2 linked regions of the Homo sapiens genome follow. The protein of the gene in region 1 interacts with the protein of each later gene in a pairwise test. Each region holds a gene or a part of one and is shown on either strand. Other genes may lie near its edges.

What was found.
Region 2: the proteins of KCNK12 (region 1) and AXIN2 interact in a two-hybrid assay, tested with the Homo sapiens proteins (one large-scale study listed by BioGRID and IntAct).

Annotation. Positions count from the first base shown.
Region 1 is NC_000002.12:47,508,790-47,511,985, reverse strand, and holds the end of KCNK12 (potassium channel subfamily K member 12), read left to right. Parts: 3' UTR 1-2,696; downstream 2,697-3,196. UniProt on the Homo sapiens protein: K(+) channel subunit that may homo- and heterodimerize to form functional channels with distinct regulatory and gating properties. Can heterodimerize with KCNK13 subunit to conduct K(+) outward rectifying currents at the plasma membrane.
Region 2 is NC_000017.11:65,537,649-65,541,148, reverse strand, and holds part of AXIN2 (axin-2), read left to right. Parts: intron 1-2,805; coding exon 2,806-2,946; intron 2,947-3,313; coding exon 3,314-3,500. UniProt on the Homo sapiens protein: Inhibitor of the Wnt signaling pathway. Down-regulates beta-catenin. Probably facilitate the phosphorylation of beta-catenin and APC by GSK3B.

The DNA of each region.
Region 1 (3,196 bases):
TCTCCAGAACTGCACAGTCCAATAGGCAGCCACAAGCCACACACAGCTATTTAAATGTAAGTGAATTTAAACTACATTTTCAGCTCGTCAATTGCACTAACCCCATTTCAAGTGTTCAATAGCCACATGTAACTTGTGGCTACCATATTGGATAGCACAGATATAGAACATTTCTGTCACTGCAGAAAAGTCTACAACGCAGGGCTGCTCTAATGAGAGCTCTGGGATCCGAAAGCCTGAATTCCAGGGCATCCTTAAGGGGCAGAAGTAAAAGGCCTTCCCCAACCATCATGCCCCACTGTGGTCTCCTCTGCCTCCAAGTGGCCTTGTCTTCCTCATCCCCTATGGAAAGACCCCCACCTGCTGTTCACCGTGCACCCATCCCTCTCCCACCCCCAGGGCAAAAGCATTTGGTTACCCTGTGATGTCACACCTGTGCGGGTAACGTCATGCACTGTGGGCATCTCTCTGTAATATGGAAGCCCCTCCCACCACAGACACCACAGATGCTGGGGTTCTGGACAGATTTCTTTAGAATACATGTATTTGCACACATGAGAGCATTGGTCCAAATACATATATGCAGGCGCAGGCACACAAATATTTATATTAAAAGCCTAATTCCACAAATGGCTGTAATTAAGACACAAAGCAAAACCTCATGAGGTTGCTCCCTTCAACTCACACATTTACTCTGCCATGCTCTGGCAGCAGGGGAACAAAAAATGGAAGATTTGCTTGACTCTGCAGACAGAGGGAAATGAGGCTCAGTAAGGAGGCCACACAGCAATTCACTAGCTAATTCAAGCAAAAGCCAGATATCCTTCCTGCTAGCCCACAGCTCTGTCCTGTCCATTCGTTTGGTATTGTATTCATTCACTCAACAAACATATGTGAGAACCTACGGTGTGCATGCTCTGTACTGGGCCACACAGAGATTACACAGTCAATGAGACATGAATCTGGCCCTCTATGGTCTAGGAGCTAGGACATGTTGGTTGCCAACTATAGAAGCAGGGATATCACAGTCATACCACCAGGGGCAGGCTCAGAGAAGTCCCGGAGAGGCTGCTTCAGATCTGAGTCCCATGCCAAGCACTAGGCTGCTCTGTGCTTCACCCAGCTGTACTTCTCCGGCCCTTCATTCCTTTTCTATCTTCAACCTGGCAAAGAATAAGCTATTCTTCATTTATTCTGGGCAGCCAGTTAATATTAATACCAGGGTTAATAGACCTGTTTCTCCTGTACACCATCTTGTCTGCTCCTCTACCTAAAATTGCCCTAAGATAAGTTCTAAAAATCCTTCTTCTCGTGGGCAGGTCACAGTGCTGCTGTGTTCCACTGAATAGAGATAAACGACGAGAGTTGGTCATATTCATAGCTGACCAAATACGTGCGGTGAGAGTGTAGGGGTGTTGAGATAGCCCCCAGGGCAGATCCTGGAGCCTTGACTTTTGTGTACCCAGGATGCTTTCCTGTCCCCTTCTTCTAGGGACACTATCTCTGTTCTTTTAGATAACTCCACCCATCTCCATGCAGTCTAGTGGAACTGCCAATCACAGGGTCCCTCCTGTATCAGTTATGAAAGCATTCAACTGTAATGAACAGAAAACCCATTGAAGGGTAGTTTTAAGGAATAAAAATCAAGGTTTATTTCATTACCATAACCAGAACTCTGGAGCAGGTGGTCTGGGGCTAGCGCAGTGACAGTGATGCCATCGGTAAGGCTGGCTCCTCCTTCCCGCTCTGCCATCCTTTCCATGTTGGCTTGCCACCCCAGGTGCCAGATGGTAGCTACCCCTCCAAGGCTCACATCCATGTTACTAGTAGCAAGAAGTAGCAGGGAGAAGGTAAAAAATGCTCTCTCCCAACAGGACTTTTCCTAGACCTCCCTAGGACTTTCTGCTGCATCTCATTGACCAGAAGAGAGTCACATGATCGTCACCACCTATAAGGGAGGGAGGGAGAGAGTGTTGTGCTTTCAGTCCTCTGTACAAGAGGACAGCAAGGGGGAGGGGATTGGGATGGGTGTGAAGTGAGAATGCCTACAGTTCCTGCTGCCTCCCCATCAAGGCTGGATTAATCACGGTTCCGCATTCTCAGAGAAACAGCCATTGATCTAAGGGAGGGTGCATGCCTCAGGTTGGGGAGTGGGGGGGAAGTCCCCTGGCCTTACACAAATTGGAGGGGGTGGAGTAGCCCTTTCTTGTCTTGGTTTATAAATTAGGCCTGGCGGCATGAGTCAGGGTCAAGTTAATGCAATAGAATCCAGTCCAGCTGATTTAAGCAGAAAAAGACCTATCATTGGCAATCAACTCCAACCTGGCCACCTAGCTCTCTGACACTGATGACCTGACTGGGTGACAGAATCGTGACTCCAGCACGTCATGCCACAGTCCTCGGACAGGGTCTTATGTGCTAAGGAGAGACACCTGGACACCACAATCCTGCACCAGGTACCATCTGCACACAGCAGGCCACCTCCAGCCAGCTAATGCTGATACAACTGACGTGTTGGCAGCCAGCTGACATCAGAGACTGTGGTTTCCTGCTATGGGACAGAGAATTTGCAATCTGTTGGTTTTCAAAGACCTACCCCATTTCACCTCCCCCATCTCATCCTGAACAACCTTCCAAGACCCTGGCCTGAATCAGGTTTCCTGTTTGGCAATAAAACTTTTTCACTCAGTGCTCAATGTTTGGTCTTTAATGGCCTTTATTTTCTCTTTAACTTGGACTGTTAAATGCACCCCCACCCCTGGGAAGCCTGAAGAGACTCTAGGGTTGAGCTCTAGTTTGAGCTCTGGGATTAACTCTCAGGAGAGACACACCCACAGAACTAGGTCACTGAGAGGGTTGCTGTCTCTCTGATCAAGAAATAGCCTTTTTCAGATGCCACCATGATAAAGTCACTCCAGGAAAAACAGAACCCCTCACTTGCCAGCAAAAAAAACCAGCAGAAGCATGGGCTCCTTCTCCAATCTGCTTTTGAAAATCTTGCTAAAGTGCATCTAATGTGTAGAATCTAACTCTCATCCAGATTGGTAGCTGCAAGAGAGGCTGGGAAATGTGGTTTTCAGTCTTTTAGCCTCAACAGTACAGGATAGCCCTCTAGAAGGAGGGTAGAAGAGATGCTCAGTGCCTGTCTACCACATCCTCCCTGCTGGGCTGCCAATCAGCTGCTGTCCTCTGCCAC
Region 2 (3,500 bases), on another chromosome or scaffold:
CTCAGCACTTTGGGAGTCGGAGGTGGGCAGATCACCTGAGGTCAGGAGTTCGAGACCCAGCCTGGCCAACATGGTGAAGCCCCACCACTACTAAAAATACAAAAATTAGCCTAGCGTGGTGACGTGCGCCTGTAGTCCCAGCTACTTGGGAGCCTGAGGCAGGGGAATCACTTGAACCTGGGAGGTGGAGGTTGTAGTGAGCTAACGCCAGTGCACTCCAGCCTGGGCGACAGAGCGAGACTCCTTCTCAAAAGAAAAAACAAAGAAAAGAGGTTTATTTGGTTCATGGATCTGCAGGCTATTCAAGAACCATGGCGCCAACATCTGCTTCTGGTGAAGGTCTCAGGGAGCTTTCAATCATGATGCGCAAGGGGAAGGAGAGCCAGTTTGTAACATAGCGGGAGAAACAGCAAGCTGAGGTTGGGGGGGTGGTGGGCAATGCCATGTTCTTTCAAACAACCAGATCTCATATGAACTACAGGGAAAACTTGCTCATTACTGCAGGGAGGGCACGAAACACCTCCCACTAGGTGCACTTCCACCATTGGGGATCATATTTCAACATGAGATTTGGAGGGGACAAGCATCCCAACTATGTGAGAGGTTTGATGACCTATTTTTGAACCTTTGCATTTTCTGAATTCAAAAAAAAAATTCCCTATCAGAAAGAAACTGAAGCACTTATTTCCCAGAAACTAAGAAATGCTAGATGATCCATGCTTCTCTACAGCTTGGTGAGCTCACTGTATTTCCACTAGAATGGAAGCCCTCTGATGGGAGGGAGTTTTATCTATTCTGTTAACCTCTGTATGCACAGAGACTAGAACAGTACCTGACACATAATAGGTGCTCAATAAACATTTGAGTGAATGAATAAGGAACCTCTGCCCCCCCTTGGGACATCCTCCTGCTCTCTTCACTGGGACATTCTACTTCTTGTGTCAACCACAGGACTCCAAGTCATTTTAGTCAGTGATTTTAGTCATTTATTTATGTATTCATTGACCATTTCTCCTCCTGGCTCCTGAAGCCCTGGAGGGTAGCTGTTCCTTTCCAACTCCAGAACTTGGCTTGGTACCTGCTGGTGAGTCTGTGCCTATCAAATGCGGAATGAACGAAGTGTTTAGAAGTGAGGATCTCCTGAGCAGCTTCTTCCTGTGACTGAGATGGTGGATGAAGGGCTCTTCTGGGACCTCTGCTTTTATTTCCATGCTTGCTAAAGCAGCCAGCACATGGCTGTACTCAAGAGAACTTCCCCATCTACATTCCCATTTTAGGGCTGTGCTGTTTACAACAGCCTCAGATCCAGGTTGCAAGGAGGGGAGGGGAAGAAAGCACCCAGCTCACAGCAGGTGTTTATGAATCCTTCCTGCCAGCTTCAGAGAATCTAATTGGTCTGGTTATGTTGTGTTTAAAAAATTAACACATTGAATTGCTAAACCCATGTTGCATTAGTGCACAAACTATAGCTCTTCTCTGAAAGCTCCTCACACAGACAAGGGCAGACTTACCTTGTTTTAAAATTAGCATATTAAAATTGCTTTTCTGAGGACCTCTAGCATCCCCTCCCTCTACAGATAACAAGTATTGATGACATACTATCATTGTTTTTTTGACTGGGGGATATGTGAGTTAACAAAGAAAAGTTCTATCGCCCAAGCTTGTAAATTAGATGATTTTGTCCTGGGGTGTGCAAATCGACTTTCTCCATCAGGCAGCGCTTTGATCAGGGGCTGCAAGGAGCCAGCCTGTGTGAGAATGGCCACCTACACAGGAGCCTTTCTCTTCTTCCCCAGTTTCTGCAGCTAAGTGGTTGCCGTGGCAAGGCCCATCTTTTCAGCTGGGGGAGATGCTAGCCTTTGCAAGTTAGCTTTCTGCTACCCCCACCCCAGCCCAAAGAAAGGAGCTAAGCAAGAGGGAGATTAGGAAGAAGGAGGTAGAACAACTGGAGAGGTGGGGGGTTGGGTGGGGGGAGCGAGATGACAGGAAAAGGACAGAAAGCTGGGCAGCAGGGGTTCTCTCTGTTTGCTGCTTTTGGCAGGCGTACTCGGTGCCTTTTTATATTCTGCACTTGATTTGGAGATGTTCCCTTTTCCCTTGATAGATCAGCTTCAGGCAGCCAAGCTCAGCAGTGTTCTGCTACTAGCCTGCAGCAGCTTTCTTCATTTTCTGTACAAAGAGAGAGGGAGGAGGGAAGGAGAAAAACGAGGGAGATCGAGGACAGTGTTGAGACACCACCACCTCAAAGGTGCGCAGTGTGCGGCCAGGAAATAAATTACCACTTCTTCTCTGATCCAGGCCGTTTGACTCCCTTTTCCCCCACTTTCTTTCCTCCCACCTCCTTTCCAATCTTATTTTTTTAAATTTTCAACTCTCTTTCTGTTTAGATTCTACTTTCTATTCCTTGAGTTGGTCTCTCCCCTCCCCACCTCAGAGGGCTGCCTTTTTTTTTTTTTTTTTTTTTTTTTTTTTTTTTTTTTTGATGGTTGACAACAGTCTTTGAAGATTTTCTACTTCAAAGTAACTACTGATGGGCTGGTTGTACTACAGAAAGAACAAGCAGGGCCTCTCGGAGTGCGACCAACTGCTCCTGCCCAAGGCAAACGCTGGTGGGGACCATGGCTCTCCATGAGGCCATGGCGCTAGCGCATAAAAGTCCCGAGCAGCCCAGGCCGCCTTGCCATCCACTCTACACCCGAACATGGGTTTGCGGTGCACAGCGCCTGGTGCGGGAAGCTCCGGCCAAGCCACCGCCCACCTAGCCTGCTGAACGTGCCTCCTCCCTTTCCTTTCCACGTCCTGTAGAGAACCCACCGCCTGCCCAAGGAGATGACCCCCGTGGAACCCGCCACCTTTGCAGCTGAGCTGATCTCGAGGCTGGAAAAGCTGAAGCTGGAGTTGGAGAGCCGCCACAGCCTGGAGGAGCGCCTGCAGCAGATCCGAGAGGTAATGCGGCCTAGGCCTTCTTCCTGCTTCCGTCCACGGCGTGAGCGCTCGTATGTGTATGCGCATGTGCATGGGGTGCGTTAGGGTGTGCGCATGTGCGTGGGTTGCATGCGCATGCGCGTGGGCTGCGTGTGGGTGTGTGCCTGGGCGTGGGCTGTGTGCGCATGTGCATGGGTTGCGTGTGGGTGTGCATATGCGTGTGGATATGTGCTTGTGTAGGCGGGCCTGTGCGTGTGCGCATGGGCGTGGCTGTGGGCGTGCACACGGGTGTGCGTGCTCCTGCGTAGGGAGCCGAATGTTGCAACCCCAGGGCCTCTGGCCCTTCTGCTTCCTGGGTCACTTCTCCTTCTGACGTCTTCCCTTTCAGGATGAAGAGAGAGAGGGCTCCGAGCTCACACTCAATTCGCGGGAGGGGGCGCCCACGCAGCACCCCCTCTCCCTACTGCCCTCCGGCAGCTACGAGGAAGACCCGCAGACGATACTGGACGATCACCTGTCCAGGGTCCTCAAGACCCCTGGCTGCCAGTCTCCAGGCGTAGGCCGCTATAGCCCCC